4 linked regions of the Homo sapiens genome follow. The protein of the gene in region 4 interacts with the protein of the main gene of each other region in a pairwise test. Each region holds a gene or a part of one and is shown on either strand. Other genes may lie near its edges.

Region 1 (4,468 bases), on a different chromosome or scaffold from region 4:
GACTGTGATCCAGCGGAGGCAAGATGGTTCAGTCAACTTCTTCACTACCTGGCAGCACTATAAGGTGGGCACAGGTGGGCAGAGGCAGGGAAGGGGAGGGAGCCTGTTCTGGCTTCCTGACTTTCCTGCCCTGCCAGGCGGGCTTTGGGCGGCCAGACGGAGAATACTGGCTGGGCCTTGAACCCGTGTATCAGCTGACCAGCCGTGGGGACCATGAGCTGCTGGTTCTCCTGGAGGACTGGGGGGGCCGTGGAGCACGTGCCCACTATGATGGCTTCTCCCTGGAACCCGAGAGCGACCACTACCGCCTGCGGCTTGGCCAGTACCATGGTGATGCTGGAGACTCTCTTTCCTGGCACAATGACAAGCCCTTCAGCACCGTGGATAGGGACCGAGACTCCTATTCTGGTAAGGAGAACTCCTATTCTGGTGAGAGGATAGGGGAGGCGGGACTCCTGTTCTGGTGAGGGAATGAAAGGAGGTAGGGTAGGTAAGACGCCCCTCTGGTAAGTATAAGGATAAGCAAGCTTTTATTCCGTCAAGAGAACAAAGGTCAGGACTTTTATCCTGGTGGGGGGATGGGGAGTCCAGATTCCTTCTCTGATGAGGCAAAAAAAGAATCAAGACTCCTGTTCAAGTAAAGGGCAGAGGGTGAGAGCTAGTACTCTTATTCTAGAAAGGAAGTAGATACTTTTCTTTGATAAAGGAATGAACGGTAGACTCCTAGTTTGCAGAAAAGGTGGGAAAGATGTGACTTGTACTTTGGTAAGGAGATAGGGAAGGAATTAAGGCTATTACTCTGAAGAAAGTTGGGGGGCCAGGGCTCCTATTTTTTTGCTGAGGAGATGGAAGATCAGGGCTTGTATTCAATAAGAATGGGAGGGGCCAGGGGATGCCTGGCAAAAGCCTTGCACTGTGAGGTGCAGGTAGAGGCTTTTATTCTGGTGAGAGGACATGGACTCTCTCTCTCCCCTCAGGTAACTGTGCCCTGTACCAGCGGGGAGGCTGGTGGTACCATGCCTGTGCCCACTCCAACCTCAACGGTGTGTGGCACCACGGCGGCCACTACCGAAGCCGCTACCAGGATGGTGTCTACTGGGCTGAGTTTCGTGGTGGGGCATATTCTCTCAGGAAGGCCGCCATGCTCATTCGGCCCCTGAAGCTGTGACTCTGTGTTCCTCTGTCCCCTAGGCCCTAGAGGACATTGGTCAGCAGGAGCCCAAGTTGTTCTGGCCACACCTTCTTTGTGGCTCAGTGCCAATGTGTCCCACAGAACTTCCCACTGTGGATCTGTGACCCTGGGCGCTGAAAATGGGACCCAGGAATCCCCCCCGTCAATATCTTGGCCTCAGATGGCTCCCCAAGGTCATTCATATCTCGGTTTGAGCTCATATCTTATAATAACACAAAGTAGCCACAGACCGTGTCTGGTTTGTATCTGCACCTGGCAGGGGTCACTCCCTGGGCCCGCCCTCCTCGTCCTCCACCTCCTCCTCTTCCTCCTCCTCCTCCTTCAGGTCCTCCAGGATGAGGTTGTCCAGGTCTTCCAGGAGGCCACCCTGGCTCAAGCAGGTGGCCACAGTGGAGCCACTGCTAATGTGAGGGTTGCTGGGGTGGAGCACTTTGGGCAGGTGGTTCTGCTTCCGGCTCTTGGGGTGAGCACAGGATGTCCCAGGCACGTGGGGCTCTAGGGAGGGAGAGGTGCTGCAGACATGGGGCTGGAGGTCCCATGAGAGTCTGGGGAGGAGGGGACTTAGGCCACGCGGGGCTCTAGGGAGGAGCTGAGACCACCAGATACGGGGACCAGCACAACTGGACATTCAGGGGTGTTGAAGATACAGGAGACCTGGGGACATGGGGGTCACCTGAGATTACAGGGGACAAAACAGGGGCCCCAAACCCAGAGACCATGGGGGCAGAGGCCATGGGGACCCTCAGGCACGGGCCACTGGGGTGAAACCTCAGAGCCTCCTGGGCAAGACCACGGAGACTGGGGGGTCATGGAGGCCATGTGGAAGCAGTGGCTGCTGCTGTGGGAGACAAAGTGGACTGAGTGGAGATTTGGGGACTTAAAGGCACAGAAGGGGACAAAGACTGTCCAGGCTGTTGGGGGAGAAGAGCCTCACCTCGCCGGTTGTAGCAGTCGGCAGCTGAGCAGGAGTGAGTGTGGGTGCTGCGGCGATCCGGGTCCCGGTCCCAGCGCGGGGGGAGGATCCGTGTTGGATACACGGGGAAGCCGCACCCGTAGCAGGGGGACGGGGACCCCATCTGTGCCCAGCCCCTGGGGGCGGGCAGGGCTGTGAGGGTCCGAGGGCGAGGCTGGGCCAGGGTGGGGCCAGGGCAGGGAGGGGCAGGGCTGGGGTAGGGCAGGGCTGAGGGGGAGCTGGGGGTCAGCGCCCTCACCGGAAGTTGTGCCGACACTTCGGGCAGTGGAACTCAGCCAGGCCCCACATCTTGTCAGCTGGCACTGGCTCGTAGCGCTTCCGGCATTTCCGGCACCGGGATACCTGGTGGTGGTGGGCAGGAAGGTACAGAGAGGGGACCAAGGATTGTCAGAGGTGTCTGAGGTTGGGGTCAGGGCTAGCAGTGTGCTGCAGCGGCTGGCCTCAGCTTGAGCAACCCAACTCAATCAGTGACTTCACGTGGGTAGCCTGATATTGACCATGGTGGGAATATTTACACCACAGAAATTGGCAAACACTACACATCTTGGCTTCCTGCCTCTTTTGCAAGAACTAGTTAAGCATTGACCAGAAGTGAACTACTAGTCAGGAGGTTCAGAAGCCAGATTTGGGGCTGTGTTTTTGAGGTCAGATTTGGTTTCTTTTCTTTCTTTCTTTTTTTTTTTAGAGACAGAGTCTTGCTCTGTCACCCAGGCTGGAATGCAGTGTTGTGATCATGGCTTACTGCAGCCTCGACCTCCCAGGCTCAAACGATCCTCCCACCTCAGCCTCCTGAGTAGTTGGGACCACAGGCACACACCACCACTCCCAGCTAATTAAAAAAATTTTTTTTTGCCAGGCACAGTGGCTCATGCCTGTAATCCCAGCACTTTGGGAGGCTGAGGTGGTAGATTGCTTGAGCCCAGGAGTTTGAGACCAGCTTGGGCAACATGGCAAAACCCCATCTCCACACACACACACAAAATACAAAAATTAGCCAAGTGTGGTGGCGCAGGCCTGTAGTCCCAGCTGCTTGGGAGGTTGAGGTGGGAGGATCACCTGAGGCCAGGAGGTGGAGGCTGCAGTGAGCTATGATCCCGCCACTGCACTCCAGCCTGGGTGACAGGGCGAGACCCCCTGTCTTCAAAACACATTTTTTTTTGGAGACAGGGTCTCACCCTGTCACCCAGGCTGGTCTCAAACTCCTAAATTCAAGCGATCCTCCCTACTTAGCCTCCCAAAACACTGAGATTGCAGCCATGAGCCACTGCGCCTGGCCAGGTTTGATTTCTGTAGTAGCTGTTCAATTGTGGGTCAAGGGTCAGGTTCTGGGGTAAGGAGGTATTGGGCTTCTCACATTTAAGGTCAGAAGTCCAGTCCTGGGTCAGGGGTTGGGATCAGAGATCAAGGCTGAGCTCTGAGTTTGGAGGTCAGGGATTGGACTCTCAGTGATTGAAATCCTTAGGTCAGAGGTACAGTCACTGAGGATAGGAGTCAGGAGTGGAGTTCGGGACAGTCAAAGTCGAGGTTAAGTTTTAGGTCATCACCTCCTTCCGCTGGGGCACGCGGCGCCACCAGACGTGGTCGCAGGAGGAGCAGGCAAACTGCCGGTCCACAGCAGGGATAAGGTCGTCCTGGGCACGTTGAAACATGCGTAGGTTGGCTTCTGTCAGTGGCAGGAGGGAGGTCGCCACTGCCTGTGGAATGGGGCAGGTGGGGATGAGGTGGGGGGGTGTCACCCCTTCTGCACCAACATAAGCATCAGCCCTCCTCTCCCTACAGACGAGTCCTCTTCCTGCCCCAGTGAATATCTCCCCTCCTGCCCTAATGGACATCCTTCTGTGCCTGCAGATGTCCCCCTCCCAACTCCCCCATCCCAAGCCCTAGCCACCAACTCACCTGAATGTCCCGGTCCTGCTTCATATCTTCTGGTGGATCCTGGGTGGAGATAGCAGGGGCAGAAACTGGGGATGGGGCTCAGGCCTCTTTCCACCCGTTTGCTGGGGGAGGCCCCCGGCCGCAATGAGTAGGGTGCCCCTAACTCGCCAGAAGCTCACAGAGCACCACTCACTTATTGAGAGCCAGGTGTGTGGCCTCAGTTGTCCTCATAGCAGCCCTGAGAGGTGGGCACACCTGTTACCTTATTGCTCAGATGGGGAAACTGAGGCTTAGGGGAGGGCTTGCCTGAGTGAGGCTAGCCTGACCCCCATACTCACTTCCTGCCTGCAAATGCCACATGCTTGTTGATGTTGTGACATATCGCCCCTTTGAGGCCACGTTGTGCTCGGCTAAGTGGGAGAGAGATG
Region 2 (7,124 bases), on a different chromosome or scaffold from region 4:
AAGACAATGCATAAACTGGACTTTGAATGGCATTGCAGGTGAAGGGTGGGGTAGGGGACACAGTCATAAGGACTTTATTTTTTTATTTTTTGAGACAGAGTCTCGCTCTGTCACCCATGCTGGAGTGCAGTGGCGCGATCTCAGCTCACTGCAACCTCCGCCTGCTGGGTTCAGGTGATTCTCTTGCCTTAGCCTCCCAAGTAGCAGGGATTACAGGAGCATGCCACCACACCCGGCTTTTAAAAATATTTTTAGTAGAGACAAGGTGTCACCATGTTGGCCAGGCTGGTCTCGAACTCCTGACCTCAGGAGATCCACCCGCCGTTGCCTCCCAAAATGCTGGGATTACAGGCATGAGCCACTGTGCCTGGCATAGGACTTTAAATGAAAAACTGAACAAATTTAAATATGTAACTACAGATTAGATAACAGGATGTTAGGTAATATGCTATTCAACACTATCTAATGAGTAACACTACAACTACTAGTAGTCTTTTAACAGATCTGATATGTAATAGATAACAATATTATTTAATATCTAATATTATCTAGCATGTTATGTGAAACCCTATACCATCCCTTCTTAAATACCTCTTACCAACACACCCCACATTTACCATGGTATGTGGGCTTCCTTGCTGCAGAAAGCCATAATCAGCTGTCTCTGGTTAGTTATGTTCCTGGTGGTATTTGGCTGATGGTCATCAACAAAGCAACCAGGAAAAATGTAAACAATTGGCAAATTTGGATAGAGTATGAGAACTCCTTATACTATTTTTGCAACTTTTCTATAGCTTTTAAATGATATAAAGATGAAAATATTTTATTTTGTTTTTAGTTTTTAATTTTTTTTTTTTTGAGACAGAGTCTCGCTCCCTAGCCCAGGCTGGAGTGCAGTGGCGCGATCTCGCTCACTGCAAGCTCCGCCTCCCGGGCTCACGCCTTTCTCCTGCCTCAGCCTCTGGAGTAGCTGGGACCACAACTGCCTGCCACCATGCCCAGCTAATTTTTTGTATTTTTTTTTTTAGTAGAGATGGGGTTTCACCATGTTGGCCAGGATGGTCTCGATCTCCTGACCTCGTGATCCACCCGCCTCGGCCTCCCAAAGTGCTGGGATTACAGGCGTGAGCCACCGCGCCCAGCAAAAATATTTTAGATATCAGGAAATAGTCATAAGGATAATGGGAATAATAAAATTGAGCATTATATAATATGGCAGTTCACTAGTTTATTCTTTTTTTTTTTTTTTTTTTTGAGTCTCACTCTGTTGCCCAGGCTGGAGTGCAGTGGCGTGATCTTGGCTCACTGCAACCTCCACCTCCCGGGTTTAAGCAATTCTCCTGCCTCAGCCTCTAGAGTAGCTGGGACTACAGGCACGTGCCATCACGCCCGGCTAATATTTGTATTTTTGGTAGAGATGGGGTTTCACCATGTTGGCCAGGCTGGTCTCAAACTACTGACCTCAAGTGATCCACCTGCCTTGGCCTCCCAAAGTGCTGGGATTATAGGCATGAGCCACCACAACCAGCCTCACTAGTTTAGTCTCTATTAGCAATATTTAAAATTTTCTATAGTTAAAAGACATATGGGAAAACACATTAAAATATAACAATTTTTAAAAAAATGTTTATCAACAAATATAGAAGTAGACACAAAGAAAGACAAAAGAAATCAATTAGAAGCTTAACAGTTACTACCTTTACATCTTGGATACATGGGTAATTAAAAAACTTTTTCTACTCTCATTTCTCCTATTTCAGACTTTTCCACAATGATACAGTTCCACAACAGTACGAAATACTTGGAAAACATGAAACAAAATAGTTGAGAAATTTTTAAAAATTCCTAGACGTCCAAGCCCACGAGCCTTGCTCTCAACGTCCTTTCAATCAGGTCCTAACTTGCTTTCCCTACGAGTCCAGCTAGTTCCTCTGCCTCAATGAGAATGTATCCAAGAGGTGATCAACTCAGGCTCTGACCTGGACTGCCTAGGTGCCAACCCCAGCTCTACCTCTCACTAGTTGGCTGCTATGCACCCTGTGTCTCACTCTCATTTTTAAAACAAAGAAAAGCAATACTTCACAGAGCCACAGTGTGGCCTAAATTTATTTGTATAAAGCACTTAGAATGAAGTTACCAATTACGGCTTAATGATTATCAACACCCATTCCCGAGGACACACTCTCGGTTGGGTGAACATCTCTATAAAGGAAAAAAGCCAAGGACCAATCACATAGAGATTTGCCCTCAGTAGCCAAGAAGTCCCCTCCCTGCAGCTCTTTTAGAAAGGTCAGGCTGGGGAAGGCGAAAGTTGTGAAATACCCTGACTGCATCGCGGTCCCCCATAAAAGTTAAATGCTCCCCGCCCTTCGTGGAAGCGGACGCAACTCGCTTTCCTAAAAAGAGGTCAGAAGGCCTCCCGGGATCATCCAGCGTCCTGCAGGGATTAGGGAGAAGGACCAGGGCCCCTGCAGCTGAAGCTATGACTCCACCCGGGGACCTGACCTCTTCGGGAAGTTAACAAGAGACCACCAGTCACCAAGTGACAGGGACTGCTTTAAGGTTCTCATTTGCGTTATCTCTTTCAGTTCCCAAAAACGATTCTACTAGGATGGTTCTAATGTCCCCATTACCAAAAACAGCAATGGAAAGTATAAGGACATTGAGTAACACTCCACGTCACACTGCGAGAAAGCGGTCGCACAGGTAGGGTGGAGAGAGGCAGGCTGAGCGAGGTCAAAGTCCTGGAAACGCTCACAGCAGGGCACAGAGGACCCCGCCAATTCCAACCCCCGGGATGCGAGCACAGCACCCCCATCCCAGAAAGCTTCCGTGGACGGGAAAAAAACCCCATTCCCCGCCCCCACCAAACCTCCGCTCTCCGCCAAGGCTTCTTTTCCCTTGCTTGGATCATCGATCATCGGGTCGTTGCGACCCCAAGCGAAGGTGACAAGTTCAGAAGGACCCGCCAGACGCAGAAATGGCTCAAACTACGCGGTTATGTAGCAACCGCAGGCTCACACACCGGAAGTGCTCGCGTCTCCACAGAGCGTCTGGACTCCACTTCCCAGAATTCCCCGGTTCAACTGCTTGAGCCAAAGGGTCCGCCATTCCATGAAGTTGATGGACTACAGTTCCCAGAATTCACTCGTCCACCCGCCTGAGCCAACTTGCCCGCGACTCAGAGTGTGTCTGGACTCCGCTTCCTCCAATGCCAAAGGAAAATGTCTATAATCTCACTCTTCAGCGGGAAGCGTTGGACTCCGCGGTGGTCCTTGACTACACACACCGCAGTGCCCACCGGGAACGTATTCCATATCTCTGAGCGCCTGGTGGGGAATGTGGACTGTGACCCTGTGAGTCGTCCGTCTCTCTTCCTGAGTCTTTGAGCGAAAATAGTGTATAGACAGGAATTCCTGAAGTCTAAACGCCTCCCACGATGACAGGAGTGTTATTGGGAAGAGAACAAACGAGGAGATAAAATCTTCAAGGATTAGGATAATCTGACGATGGGAGGTTAAAACTAACGGTTTAAAGGATGAGCCAGGTGGAATGGTTTGGCAGGGGCAATGAGGAGCAGGAAGACACCAGCCCCTACTCCAGAAGCTGTGGGACCACTGGTTTGGCAGGAAAAGCCACCCCCATTTAAGATCACAGCTACTAGTGGAGAAGCGGTGTCGTCATGGAATAGCTATCTTCCCATAAACTTTTCATGGTATTCATATTTCTCCTTAGATGTAGAAACATCAAATTTCAGCGAATGTAGTGAATTGCTCAGTACCTCAGAGCAATAATGACTGATGAAGAGCTAGGCATTGGTATCAATCTTACATTGAGATTGTAAATGCAGTAAAACGGGAGGATTCTATAGGTGAAGGAGCATGTCTTATAAAGAGTTTTCTTCCTGGCCAAGCGCAGTGGCTCAAACCTGTAATGCCAACCCTTTGGGAGGCCAGGGCAGGACGTTCCCTTGAGCTCAGGAATTGGAGACCAGACAGGGAAATACAGGGAGACTTCGTCTCTATAAAAATTTTTTTTTAACTGGCCAGGCATGGTGGCCTGATCTTGGGACTACAAGTTCCAAGTACTCAGGAGGCTGAGGTGGGAGGATTGCTGAAGCCCAGGAGTTTGATTGAGGCTGCAGTGAGCTATGATGCCACCACTGCCCTCCAGCCTAGGCAACAGATACCTCAATAATTAAAGATTTTTTTTTTTAAGTTTCTTCTTATTTCTTGGTGAAACATAATTTCTTTATTATAGTTAGCAATTTAAAAACTGGCATTGGTTAAAAAATAATAACAGTATAAAGCTAAATTAGGAAACAATTCATCTAAAAACCTGCTCTTTTGAAGGTAACTTTTTTTCTCCCTATAAACATACATTGGCCTATAAACCAATATTCTTCTTTTTAAAAAAAATGGAGTCTACTGTTTACCTATTTTTCTAAACTAAAAACTTTTCAAAATTTTGTTTAGACACAAAAATAAGGTGACTGTGCCAAACTTTTGATGCCAAACATCCGCTCTCTGAAAATTGAGTGATCACTATTCATATGCCAGTTATAGCTGTATCCTTGATCTACTCTGCCTTCCCGAAAGATAAGATGTATTGACACACTCAATCGTAGCATGCAGGGAACTGAGCCTAAAAGGTTAGGGGCACTTGGCATCAAAGGTCCCTTCTGCTTCCCAGGTCCGTGCACTCTGGGTCTGTGTTGGGAGGAGCAGCCTCTATGATCTCCTAGATGCCTTTGGGGTCATTCTTCCAGTGTTAATGGACAGCAGGTCCTGGCTTCTGTTGACATGACCAATCCAAACTAATCTCCTAAATCAGTTGCTTATCTCTACCGTTGTTTTATCCAGAACAGGTTTTCTAATTTTTTTTTCCAAAGTAGATAGGCTGTGAATTTTTAAAATTCTTAGTTCTGTTTCCCTTTTAATTAATAATTCTGACTTTCTGTGGTGTCCCTCCCACATGTGGGAATTCTGGGAGATACAATTCAAGCTGAGATTTGGGTGGGGACACATCCAAACCATGCCATTGATGACACTGACAAAAACAACAGGGAAAGGACTCCCTATTCAATAAGTGCTGCTGGGATAACTGGCTAGCCATATGCAGAAGATTGAAACTGGTCCCCTTCCTTACACCTTATACAAAAATGAAGCTGGGCGCTGTGGCTCACCTCTGTAAAAATGGGTAATAATGTCCCCACTTTTAGTTACTTGAGTCTTTTTTAGTCAGTCCTGCTAAAGTTTTCACAATTTTGTTAGTCTTTCAGAATAATCAACTCTTGGTTTGGTTGATTTTCTTTGTATTCTTCTTCTGTATTTTATTTATTAATACTTTAATCTTTATTATTTCCCTCCTAATCACTTTCTGTAAGATTCTCCTTTTCTAGTTCATGAAAATAAAATTAGGCTGTGGATGTCAGATCTTTCTTCTTTAATATAAGCATTTACAGATATAAATTTCCCTCCTCCTACTGCTTTTGCCTCATTCCAAAAGTTTTGGCCATTGTTTTCATTTTCAGTTGTCTAAGGTATTTCCTAATTTCACTCCTGATGTACTCTGACATATTATTTAAGAGTGTGCTGCATGCACACGTATGTTTATTGTGGCACTATTCACAATAGCAAAGACTTGGAACCAACCCAAATGTCCACCAATGATAGACTGGATTAAGAAAATGTGGCACATATACACCATGGAATACTATGCAGCCATTAAAAAAGATGGGTTCATGTCCTTTGTATGGACATGGATGAAGCTGGAAACCATCATTCTGAGCAAACTATCACAAGGACAGAAAACCAAACACCGCATGTTCTCACTCATAGGTGGGAATTGAACAATGAGAACACTTGGACACAGGGTGGGTATATATATATATATATATATATATATATATATATATATATACACACACACATACATATATACATATATATACATACATATATATACACATACATATACATATATATACATACATATATATACACATATATATATAAAGAGTGTGTTTAGTTTCCACATACTTGTGAATTTTCCACTTTTCATGATGTGATTGAATTTCAGCTTTTGTGATCTAGATTATAATTGGAAAAGACTTTTATGGTATTAAACTTTTGAATTTATTAAGATGTTTTATTGAATTTATTACAACGTTTTCAGCCTGTAGTGTGAGAAAAATTACAAATTATTGTTGAATTTATATTGTATTCAACCAATGGAACACTACACAAAGCCACAAATACTAAGAATGCAACTTCGGAATAGAGGAGGAGGGGAAGACAGGAACCAAGTGTGAACAGATATTATCAAAATAATGCTGTGAACTGCAGTATTTAGTGTACTCTGCATTTCAACTCAGGTGTCCCTGAATTATTTGTAGATTTCCTCTCTTAGATACAATTTAAAAACATCGCGTTTGCTCCTTTTAATTCATTTAACACATAGTGAACACAAAGTGATAATCAGTGTTAAAGTTGTGAAGATGCAGCAGAAAACACATGTCACTGACATTCTAGTGGTAATCAACTTTGATATGTTCATGATTCGTTTTGTAAATGCATGAATGAACTCTTAAGGTCTGTCTCCTGAATAACTGTAACTGTCAAACTTTTGTTTGAAGCCCTACTGCACAACTTACAAGGGTTCTCCACTGTGACAGTCCCAGGACCACTGGGGTATGCTGAGCTATGGCTGAAACAGGCTTTAACTTAAATGTTTTTTCTCCTACAGGACTGGATGAAATGTATCATCAGCATGGATTCTGTGATAAATTACAAGATACAAACTCAAAAGGAACTGCTTTCTATGTGCCTCATATTTTAATGTTTCTCCCCTTTGTGAATGCTTAGGTGAGACTGTAGTCATGAAAACTGAGTAAAGACTTTATTACACACATTACTGAGGCTTCTCTCCAATGTGGACATTCTGAAGTTGAAGACTTGAGGCCTGAATGAAGCACATACCACCCTCCTCATACTTCCGTAGTTTCTCTCCCGTGTGGAGCTTCTGAAGCATAATAAAATTCAAGTGATCCAGCAATTCTATTACTGGGTATATCCAAAGGAAAGGAAATTAGTATGTCACGGAGATATCTGCACTCCCAGGTT
Region 3 (4,426 bases), on a different chromosome or scaffold from region 4:
TTCTGGCGGCCCCTTGATAGTTCACAAGAGAAGTCGTTTCATTCAAGTGAGTCCTCCCTTTCCTATCTGGGGAGATGCCAAGTGGTCAGCATGGGCCCCAAAGCAGGAAAGCTCAATGCATGTGGCTAGTAATTCGAGGTAGGCAGAGCCTGCCTCACCTTAGGACCGCATGTCTTGCCTGCGTGTGTCAAGAACGAGGCTGAGCTGGGTCCCTAGTCTGATTCCTTTAGGTCAGCTAAGACACAAGCAGGAACAGCCATGCTTCCAGGATTAGGAATTCTACTGAATGATCCATGGCACCCCACTGCCTCTGCAGGTTGGTGTAATCAGCTGGGGAGTAGTGGATGTCTGCAAAAACCAGAAGCGGCAAAAGCAGGTACCTGCTCACGCCCGAGACTTTCACATCAACCTCTTTCAAGTGCTGCCCTGGCTGAAGGAGAAACTCCAAGATGAGGATTTGGGTTTTCTATAAGGGGTTTCCTGCTGGACAGGGGCGTGGGATTGAATTAAAACAGCTGCGACAACACCTGTGTTCCAGATCCTTTTGGGGCAAGGGAGTGGGGAACAGGCACTGGCCATGTTGTTACACTGAGATCAAACCTGACAGCCGTTTTTAAAGGTTTAACCCCAATCCCAAGTGCTGAAAAACCAGAGGCTGAGGGAGATGTGTAAGCTTCCACCTCAGTGTTTTACTGAGACCAGCATTGGGGCATATGAGGCACAAGGAATCCAGCTCTGTTCCCTAGAAGCCATCCACAAGGTTTTCCTTGTAGACGTCATCACTGTAGACAATCTGGGTCCTCTTGTCCCGGTGGCAACCCTTAGGGCTGTTCTGGACAGCTAGGGAGGGAGGAGAGGAACAGTTAAGGTCTAAAGGAGATCATAGAACAGACCCTGAGGCTGACTCCTGACCACCTCACTCCTGGCCACTGGCCCCTGGAAGCCCAGTTTCCACGCTGCCCTCTGGTGGCCAGGATGGCCTGTCTTCCTTAGCTCCTTTGTGCCAACCCATGGCCAAGAAAAGTATAAGTGGACATTTTGATGAATGTTTTGTTCTTAGAAAAATCCCAAATGTCATTGTTGAGACACGTGAATGATATTAACCCACTACTTACAGTCAGTATGTCAGAAGCTAAAAACTAGAAAACCTCTGTAGCCCTTTTTTGACATGCTGGTCAATTCTAGTTCCTTTCTTTTGCCTGAAGGGCCACTGTAGCTGAGCCCTTCTTTCTGCTCACTCCTTTCCCAGGAAAATCTACTTTCAGGGAAAATGGATTATTCACACTAAGAAATGCTACTAGCTCCACCAGAACTCATTCAGGGTGTAGCTTTGGCCCTCACCATTCTCTCTCAAGCCTCTAGCTGTTTCTTCCCCTTCCTCTTTCCTCCCTCCACCAGACATGTTACTCTCTTCACCCCATCCAATGGTTCCATCCCCACCACCCTTGAGCTACAGAGAATCTCTCTCACCCACTCCCATCCTGTGATCTCTGTGCCTCAACACTGCTGGCTACTCCCTCTTTCTCAAAGTGTGTGTCCTTTTGCTTCAGTGGCCCAGGCCCCTGCGGTGCTGCTCCCAGCCCTCCGACCCCTCCTCCTGTCTCCTTTGCTAACGTTAGGCTCAACGTTAGCCTAACATGTCAGGACAGCTGGGGACATGTGGGGTGTGAGGTGAACAGTCCTGTTTCCTAACATAGTCCCAGAGTACTCCTCAAACTGAGTCCTGGGTCGTTTTTTTTTCTCTGAAATCAGAGTCTCCCTGATGATCCTATTGTTTGGCAGCCACCCTGTGATGTGGATGACTTAATCTATGTTTTCCTTCCTTACCTCACACCTGAGTTCCAGATCCCTGATTTCGAATACTTATGAAACTCACTCTACTCCATCTCAAAATGAACAAGCCCCATGAGACACTCATCTTCCTCACCAATCTCACTCCAGCTCCCACTTTCTTCCCTGTTCCAGTCACTGCTTTGGAAGCTGTTTTCAATCCTTTTCTCTCCTTTCTTTACCTCTAACTGACAGAGGATCTGAAATTTTCCTTCCCATTCCCATAGCCTCCGCACACACTCTGACCTCGATCATCTCTAGGAAACCCAAGGATGTGTGGGGGAACCAAAAGGAATGGCCTGTGGGGGAGAGGATGGGAAAGGAAGAATCCCATTCTTACCGAGGGAGCCCCAGACAGACTTGCCAGTAGCGGCATCCAGCATGGGCTGTTTTCGGGCTATGTTGACTTTGAGCTGTACAGACTCCACCTGGGTCCCGTTGAGCTGAAGCAGAAGAGGGGAGGCAGAGGATGGGGAGGAAAACATTACAGATAAACCAAAGAAGTTATTCCAGGAGTTGCTATCCTAGGAGGAGACTGAATAAGGAATCTGAGAATGTGAGTTTTTCTGTGTGAATAGGGAGAGGCTTTCTTTATCAAGAGGAACCAACTTCTTCCTGGCATCTAGTATTTTGAGGAGAACACATGAGAACAGCAGAAGCGATGGGAAGAACAGATTTGGGAAGTTCCAACCTCAGCAACGGCCTGATCTGCTGACTCCATCTTTTCATAGGTGACGAAGGCACAGCTGGGATAAGAGAAAACACGGTCAGTGGAGAGCCAAGGGGCTCTTCTGGACCCAACCAAACCCAGTGATAATAGGCGGCTGCAGGGAGGGCAGCTTCTTCCCTCAGGTCTCACACCCCAGGATTCTCCCAGGACTTCTCATCATGCCCTGTTGTCATCCTTACTTTCTGGGTGGGTCCATGGAGAGGTCAATGATGTTTCCAAAAGGAGAGAAGGCCCCACGGAGAAGGGTGGGTGTCATGTCTTCTCCATATACATAGAGAGTATTCCCTTTCCTAGGGGCTCGCCGTTCAGGGAATGAATCCGACCCTTTGGGAGCACAAATCATAGTCACAAGACATAGACCATGCCACATTTCACTTAGTAGGACCCACATAAACCTCAGTTAAGGTCACCTTGACCTCCAGCCAAAATCACTCACTGCGGAAAGGACCCTCTCGGTCTCGGTCTCGATCCCGCTCCCGATCCCTGTCCCGTTCCCGGTCTCGATCTCGATCCCGATCCCGATCCCTGTCCCGCTCTCTGTCTCTGTCTCGATCCCGGTCTCGATCCCGCTCCCGATCTCGGTCTCTGTCCCGGTTCCTCTCATGGCTGCGGTCCCGGCTGCGGCTTCGGGGAGGGGAGGCTGAGGAGTGGGCACCACTGCGTTCTTCATAGCCCCAGTCAAAGCTTCGAGGGGGACCATCACCAGCCCCTGGGCCCTCTGCCTCTTCTCCATCTGGTCCTAGTTCTCGAAGTCGATCACTAGAAGACACAAAGCTGGGGAGATGCAGACTGAAGATCAAAGGGGGGTTTTACCTTCTCCCCTCAGACCCTGTGGAGACTCAATATTCCCTCTATAGCCCAGCTCCTACAGCCCAAACCTCCCAAGGACTCAGGCAATCAACTCCACCAAATGGGCCCAGCCTTATCTCTACTCTCTAACCTCTCATACAGAGATTTCCTCTGGGGACGTCTGGATGACTGTAAAAGAGACCAAGAACAGTTAAGATGATTTCCAGTTGCTGACATGTGGTCCAAAATATATTTGTCTCTCATATTCCTCCATCCCCAACCCCTCAGGGACAGAAATTAGGAGCCTTTACCTCTTGCAGGTCATCATCAGCAGATATGCTCCTCTGGAACGGCTGGAAAGTGGGGACTGGTCCCTTCTCGGGGTCCTGGAGTGGTGAGAGACCTACCTCAGTGTGGAGCAGGAGGTTGCCCAACCATGGACCAGAGGTGTTCCTCTTCCCTCACCCTCTTCTAGGTTTCCTCTGATCTTTTCTTCCCTTTTAATTCTACATACATTTCTTATTTGACGTGGTTTTACTTATTTTTTTTTTTTTTTTTTGAGACACGGTCCTGCTCTGTTGTCCAGGCTGGAGTGCAATAGAGCAATCGTAGCTTGCTGCAGCCTTGACCTCCCATGCTCAAGCAATCCTCCTACCTCAGCCTCCCTAGTAGCTGGGACTAGAGATGTGCTCTACCATGCTTGGCTAATTTCTGTATTTTTTTTTTTTTTTGTAGAGATAGGGTTTCACTATGTTGCCAGGGCTGGTCTCAAACTCCTGGGCTCAAGCAATCCTCCTACCTCGGCCTCCTAAAGTGCTGAAATTAACCAGGAATGAGCCATTGCCGCACCTGCCATTGTGGCTTGTTTTGTTTTGTTTTTGAGACAGAATCTTGCTCTGTCGTCCAGGCTGGAGTGCAGTGGTGTGATCTCCACTCACTGCAACCTCTGCCTCCTGGGTTCAAGTGATTCTCTGGCCTCAGCCTCCTCAGTAACTGGGACTATAAGTGTGCACCACCACATTCTGCTAATTTTTTTTTTTTTTGAGACGGAGTCTCGCTGTCACCCAGGCTGGAGTG
Region 4 (7,041 bases):
TGCTAACATTGGTGTCGATGAATGACACCAGTGAGTGATTTATCAGTGGATTATCAATGAATGATAATGTAGAAGGAACTCTTAGCTTTTCCACGATAGTATGGGAACAAGAATGGATTGCAGATATTTTCGATGAAAAATTAAGGATGGGCTCCACAAGTTTTAAAAGGATAGAACGATGCATTGAGACCAGCAAGGTGATGTTTGAGAAGTATATTTTTATGATCCCACCCATGGGTGCTAAAACCAGTTACAAATGTCTCGGATTGGGTCAGTGGAGTTTAGGACAACTTATATGGTACTTTGGTGTTTTAATTAATGATGTGGAACTAGAGGGTGATTTATATGTCCATGAGGAGGTCATTCTTAGAATGCGTGGTTAGAAGTAGAAGAGAATGGAAGGCTTGCTTTCTTATGACTCTAGATGGTGCAGTTAGAATTGAAGTATTGTGCATAGCTCTGGTCACCTTGTTTAGGAGGGACTTCAGGTTCCCTGGTGCTACACGGTGTACTTAGAGGAAAGCTGTTTGGATGGTGGGAGTTTTCAAAAGCTAATCCCACAGTTGGGAGAATCTGAGTTCTTTGACAAGGAGTAGAATAGGTTTTGGGAGGAAGGGAGCATATAGCTCTTTGTAAATACCTGAAAGGTCATCTGGTGGAAGAATTGCATCATTCTGCTGTAGAGAGGCAGAGCTTGCCAACAGAGACCCTGCCCAGATGTGTGGTGAGTTTTCTGGCCCTAGAACCAGGGGAAGCCACTTAGAAGACTCTTAAGCATCAGGTAGGTTATAAGCCTAGATCTTTACATTCCTTTCAAACTAGTACTGAACTAATTGATTTTTTTCAAGATAAAATATCAATTACTTCTAAGGCCATTATTGTTAACTTTTTGTAATAATAGATCTGAGGCATATGAAAGTTACATGTCTCACTCTGGGAAAATGCACCTCAACTAGGGGTTTGTACCATTGGTTGACCTATTTGCATATTTTATTTAATCACACACAGTCTTGTATTATGTACAAGTTTGAACTTCTGTGATCATGTTATATATTCTGTGAAAACGTTTATCTTAGTAGAAGGCCTTGGATTGAAATTTAGATCCGGACAGAAATTCGTGTTTGTGTTTACTTTGCCGCTGTCTTATGGCAGGATGAGGGAGCTGGAGTGAGGGAGACGCGTGAGGCCACATAAGGAGGAGGGAAGCTGACAGGAAACATGACTTCCTGTATATAATTTTGCCTGATAAAATTGAAGAAAGTTTTTAAATTTGCTTTTCCTGTCTTATGTGAACTTCCACGTGTTGGTTTCTGGTTTTGTTTTTCTATTCTTGTTCTTACAATAGTTTGTTTTCCTTTTGTTCTTCCTGTGTGGTGTATGATTCCATTCATGGGCAGCTTTTCTTCTTTACAGCTTCTGCTTTCTAAATGTGTCCCAGCTCTGCCACTCATGAGCTGTGTGACCTTGGGAATGTTACCTTCTCTGTGCTTTCATTTCCTTACCAGGACGTGGGAAAAAAAAAAAAGCAAGGGGATGTGAAGACCTGTCTCTGGAGGCCTGCTATAAATATTATTAAGTGTCCTAACTTAAATTAAAATTGAATATTAAAGACTTGTAATTGTGTAATTTTAATTTAAAATTAAATTTTAGGCCAGGTGCTGTGACTCATGCCTGTAATACTGGCACTTTGGGAGGCCAAGATAGGAGGATCACTTGAGGCCAGGAGTTTGAGACTAGTCTGGTCAATGTATCGAGACCCTATCTCTACAAAAAATTAAAAAATTAGCCAGATGTGGTGGTGTGCACCTGGAGTGCCAGCTGCTTGGGAGGCTGACCCAGGAGGATCTCTTGAGCCCAGGAGCTCATGGTTGTGGTGAGCTATGAACGTGCTACTGCACTCCAGCCTCGGCAACAGAATGAGATACTGTCTCAATTTTTTAAACAAATTTGTATAATGGCTGAGAAAATACTGGGCCCCTAGGAGGTTCCACCTTTCTTTCTGTCCCCTTACCAGTGAGTACCAGTTGTTTACTGACAAAGATAAAGAACATTTATGATGTAGTTCCTTAAAAATTAAAATACAACTCTTTCTAGCATGACATTGGTTTTATATTTCTTTGTCACTTTCTTGCAATCATGTTACATGTTGTGGACTTTGGTACTTTGTTTTTGTTTGTCTCTGCTGAGCAAAGTTTCTTTCTTTCTCCCAGCTTCAACAATTCAAACCGAAGAGGGCTCTTGGCTGCATATTTATACTTCTGCCCACAGAAAATTAGAGGCAGTTCCCTTCTGTGGATGGCCTATATTTATGAACTTTCTTGCCCTTCTTGACTTTGCAAGATACCCGTTTCTCATCCCAGAGAGCACAGCATTCTTTTAAACTGTGATCTTATTGATTTGCCTACATGCTTTTTGTATTTGTGCTTAGAGAACATGTGTATCTTCAAGGGAAACGCTTTTAAAATTGAATAAACAAAGACACAAGGGTTTGTTGAGAATCCCCTCTGTGTCAGGAAATGAAGACTGTGATCAGGGTATGAGCAACTTGGTTGAGGGCTATATTGGGGTCAGGCTGCACCAGGGGGTGCTACTGGCTTAGTGGAGATAAGGCTGGTAGAAGATGGAGAAGGAGAAAAAGCATGAGAGCGGGGAGGATGAGGACAGTGAGGGAGTCGTGGAAAGAACAGAAGAGCAGTGTGGTACGGAAATGCAAGCGCACATGCACATGTATGACTCTGTATTTTCCCATGATCATGCAAACATGGGGAAAGAAATGGAAAGATCTAGATGTTAATGTGTCTTGGGGTATGGGCTAGAAGAGGCAAATTTTAAAAAATGGAACAAAAACCAGCTTATAGGAAATGATCTTATGTATGTAAAAAAGTTTACATGCTTATGTATAGACGCAAAAGAAAAGAGATCTCTAAGTTGGAAACACAGAGGGCTTCAGTGAGGAGGAGCATGAGGATGGCTGCAAGGTGTCCTTGGGTTGGGTGATGGGCTGTCACGTGTTATATTATTTTGCTTTGTAACATATACATTTTATTAAATAGAGATAGGGTTTTGCTGTGTTGCCAAGGCTGACCTCAAGTGATCCTCCCACCTCAGGCTCCCAAAGCGTTGGGATTACAGGTGTGAGCTACTGTGTCCAGCCCTCATATTCTTTTTAATATATGAAACAACATATTAACAGGGATAAAGGGAAAACAAGTGGGTGGCCACGTTGCCATGTAACCTGTTTCAGGAGAAACATAACAGTAGCCTCACATGTGGTGTGCACGTGTGCTTGCACATTCTTGATGAATGAGGAGGAAAGTGTGGAAGGCTTCAAGTCTCCATTGGGGGAATTGGTGACGGGGCAGAACCTTGTTGCTGTTAAAATCCCCTATCCCCAGTGCCTAATAAAATGCACTCATAATAGTGGATGAAACAATGTCAACCTTGAATAGAATGGTTTAGTGGTGATCTGTGAGTCTACTTTAACAGAAAAGCATATCCTGTGTAGATTTTAAACTCTTTGGGGGCAGAAATAACGCTGATCTTCCTCATCATTCATTTGGACATTTATTCATTCATTTGTGCTGCAAATACATAATACGTGCCTAATATGTATGCCAGGTATTAGACAATATTTATTTTCAGTGTCTAGCAAATCTGAAAGTCTTTTTTTAATTCTTCAAAGTGAAAATACAGGATACTACAAATCCATCATTATAGGATGACCTAGTGAGGAACGCTTCCTGGAGGAAGTGGTAGTTATGTTGCATATTGAAGGATGCAAAGGACTTGTAAGATGAGGTTGGGGGAGGATTCCACATTCCATGCAGATGGAAGAGTATGCGCAAAGGCCCTGAGGCAGAGAGTAATGAACATGGTACTGTGAGGAATGAGGCCAATGTGGCTGCAGCCTGCAGAGCAGAGGGTGAGGTGGGGTTGAGGCCAGAAAGGTGTTCAGGGCCTGATCATGCAGGCCTCGAAGGCCAGAGTAAAGCATTTCCCCCAAGTTTTTATTTTGGAAAATTTCAAACCTATAGAAAAGTTGCAGATGTAATAGAATTATTACCTAGATTTTCAAATGGTTGACTTTTGCCAGTTTCTCTCTTTTACTCTTTCTCCTTCTCATATGCACACACACATACATACACGTTTTTCTTGGTCGAATCATTTGAGAATAAGTTAGAAAAATCATGACATACTACCTCTGAATTCTAAAGCATGTATATTTCAAGAACCAAATTAATCTCTGGCATAATTATAGCACGATTACACACCCAAGAAAATTAATTATAAAATACCTGTACCTTATATACAGTCCATATTTAAATCTCTAATTGTCCTAATAATATCCTTTGCTAACATGTTTTGAAAATCCAGGCTCCGCTGACATTTTTTGGGACCAGTTAGGCCAGTTATTTTGCAATACATACCTCAATTTAAATTTGCCAGATTATTGTCTCATGGTTAAATTCTGGTTGAACATTAACTACTGCATAGGTGATGTGTGGCCCTGAGAACTAACTAATATCAGGAGTCCGTAATGTCAGTTTCATTACTAGTGATGTTAAATTTGATCACGTGGTTAATGTGGTGTCTACCAGATCTCTCCATTGTAAAGATAAAATTTTCGTTTTGTAAGAAATGAAGTAGCCTGGGGGAAGATACTTTAAGCATCTATGAATATCTTGTTCCCCAACAATCTTTTACCCAATGTTTGTACCTTTGGCATCCCTTGTGTAAGATAATTATGAATGTAGCGATTGCAAAATAGTGATTTTTCAAATTCTATAATTTTTTTCTACATTCGTTGATATTCTTCTGTAAAGAAGAGCCCTTACTTCTCCTCCATCCTTTTAAATCAGTATCAGTATAGACTTGTGGATGTTTAAAATTTAGATTTAAGATCTCACATGCATTTATAATCCATTTCTAACATTAAACATTTTGATGTTTAATTTTTGTATTTGGCCAGGAGGAGCCCTGATCAGAAAGGTTTTTTGAGAAAACTATTGATTGAATGAAATAATAATATAGAAATGACAAATAAATCTGTGTTTACCACTTTTTTCTCCTGAGAAGTTCTATTTGTCAATCTAATGTGAATATATTTTTATTTCTCTCTAGGTCTCATGGACTGATTGGCTCTCATTCAGCAGGAACCTAACAGATAAGTCTTCCTGCTGTATATCAAGACAATGCTTGGTTTTCAAGCTGTTCTGAGAATGATTAAAGCAGTGTCGCAAGGTGACATTGTCAGGGGAGAACAAGCAGCTTGAGAATTTCCTCTTAATCTGATTGCAGCTTGAAGGCAGCCCATTTCCATTAAGTAGGACTGCATGGCAAGCAGCCCCACCAAAGGGTTGACAATGAGCGTCCCAGTGGCTCCTAAGAAATCATGTTACACTCAGTTGCGGGACAACAGAAATGCAGCAAGAAATAATAATGAAAGCATCTTAAGTCTGGGAGATACGAATGCCAATCAAATCATGTTGGAGGTCAGCTCCTCTCATGACGAGTCCAAGACATGTGACCTGGGAGATGAAATTGGAAATACAAATTCAAGTGAGCCAGAAAACCGTACCCATTTCCATAAGGAATTTCACCAACTTCAGGGCTTTGGGAAAGGCTCTCAGGCTGGCTCTGCCAGCCTGAAAGATTTTAGACTTTCTTCAACCATTCAGAGGGAACTCAATGAAGAGCACACAGTGGAGAGAGGCACAGATAGCCTGCAGACCACGCGGAGTATTCAGGGACCAAGTCTGTCGAGTTGGAGGAATGTGATGAGTGAGGCCAGTCTAGACGTTTTGGCTAAAAGGGATGCTGAAATTCCCCGGCATGTTCCCAAGGATAAACTGGCAAAGACCCTTGACAATGAGGAACTGAGGAGGCATTCTTTGGAAAGAGCAAGCAGCTCTGTAGCTGCAGTCGGGAGCCTGACTCCGCAGCATCCACAGCCTCTATCCCTCGACTCCCGGGAAGCACGGGGTCAGATACCTGGGGGTGGGGAGGGGCCACAGAAGACATTGCCAGACCACGCTGTCCCGGCAGCTTTCCCTGCAACTGACAGTACCTCAGAGGGAAAGAGTGTGCGTCATCCTAAACCATCTACCTCAGAAAGCAAGCAGAGCACTCCCTCAGAGACCCAAACAGTGGGGGCACATGTACTGCAGGTGTGCAGTGAGCACACATCACATTCCGCCCATCCAGAGCCTGCTCTGAATTTGACTTTGGCATCGAAGGAAATCCCAAGTAAACTGGAAGCACAATTAGGTCAGGGAAAGGGAGAGGCCAAGCTGGATCTGAAATATGTTCCTCCCAGGAGAGTTGAACAGGAGGGAAAGGCAGCCCAGGAAGGGTATCTGGGATGCCACAAGGAAGAGAATCTGTCAGCCTTGGAGGGAAGGGATCCATGTGGGGAAGCACACCCGGAAGCCACCGATGCACTTGGCCATCTGCTGAACAGTGACCTCCACCACCTTGGGGTGGGAAGAGGCAACTGTGAAGAGAAGAGAGGAGTCAACCCAGGGGAGCAGGATTCTCTCCACACCACCCCCAAACAGGGCTCTGCTTCCTTAGGAGGGGCTGATAATCAGCCCACTGGCAAAATTTCACCATGTGCAGGTGAGAAGTTGGGTGAAAGGACATCCAGCAGCTTTTCACCAGGTGACAGTCATGTGGCTTTTATTCCTAATAATCTGACTGACAGCAAGCCCTTGGATGTCATTGAGGAGGAAAGGCGGTTGGGCAGTGGGAATAAGGACAGTGTTATGGTTTTGGTGTTCAATCCTTCTGTTGGAGAGAACAAGACGGAGGTGCCTGAGCCCCTGGACCCTCAAAGTGGCCGCTCAGAAGCACGGGAAAGCAAAGAGGTCACCACATCTGTTGCTGAAAACAGGAACCTTCTAGAGAATGCAGATAAGATTGAAAGCACCTCAGCAAGAGCAGATTCAGTTCTCAATATTCCAGCACCCCTCCACCCAGAGACAACTGTGAACATGACCTACCAGCCTACAACACCCAGTAGCAGTTTTCAGGATGTTAGCG

Evidence for each region.
Region 1: the proteins of MTUS2 (region 4) and SHFL interact in binary tests that used the Homo sapiens proteins (3 or more experiments, as listed by UniProt).
Region 2: the proteins of MTUS2 (region 4) and ZNF230 interact in binary tests that used the Homo sapiens proteins (3 or more experiments, as listed by UniProt).
Region 3: the proteins of MTUS2 (region 4) and NELFE interact in binary tests that used the Homo sapiens proteins (3 or more experiments, as listed by UniProt).

Annotation. Positions count from the first base shown.
Region 1 is NC_000019.10:10,089,289-10,093,756, reverse strand, and holds the end of SHFL (shiftless antiviral inhibitor of ribosomal frameshifting protein), read right to left. Parts: coding exon of another isoform or gene 4,379-4,468; intron 4,279-4,378; coding exon of another isoform or gene 4,268-4,278; exon of another isoform or gene 4,107-4,267; intron 4,101-4,106; coding exon 4,062-4,100; intron 3,860-4,061; coding exon 3,710-3,859; intron 2,508-3,709; coding exon 2,404-2,507; exon of another isoform or gene 2,282-2,403; coding exon 2,127-2,281; intron 1,688-2,126; coding exon 1,455-1,687; 3' UTR 1,169-1,454; coding exon of another isoform or gene 978-1,168; 3' UTR 514-977; downstream 1-513. Other genes in the region: ANGPTL6 (angiopoietin-related protein 6), read left to right, coding at 1-64, 138-408, 978-1,168.
Region 2 is NC_000019.10:43,998,856-44,005,979, reverse strand, and holds the start of ZNF230 (zinc finger protein 230), read right to left. Parts: upstream 3,024-7,124; 5' UTR 2,873-3,023; intron 1-2,872. UniProt on the Homo sapiens protein: May be involved in transcriptional regulation.
Region 3 is NC_000006.12:31,951,559-31,955,984, forward strand, and holds the end of NELFE (negative elongation factor E), read right to left. Parts: intron 3,736-4,426; coding exon 3,661-3,735; intron 3,539-3,660; coding exon 3,501-3,538; intron 3,335-3,500; coding exon 2,997-3,334; intron 2,885-2,996; coding exon 2,740-2,884; intron 2,577-2,739; coding exon 2,522-2,576; intron 2,274-2,521; coding exon 2,171-2,273; intron 841-2,170; coding exon 743-840; 3' UTR 529-742; downstream 1-528. Other genes in the region: CFB (complement factor B preproprotein), read left to right, coding at 1-46, 317-472. UniProt on the Homo sapiens protein: Essential component of the NELF complex, a complex that negatively regulates the elongation of transcription by RNA polymerase II.
Region 4 is NC_000013.11:29,019,336-29,026,376, forward strand, and holds part of MTUS2 (microtubule-associated tumor suppressor candidate 2), read left to right. Parts: intron 1-5,121; 5' UTR 5,122-5,333; coding exon of another isoform or gene 5,334-5,363; coding exon 5,364-7,041. UniProt on the Homo sapiens protein: Binds microtubules. Together with MAPRE1 may target the microtubule depolymerase KIF2C to the plus-end of microtubules. May regulate the dynamics of microtubules at their growing distal tip.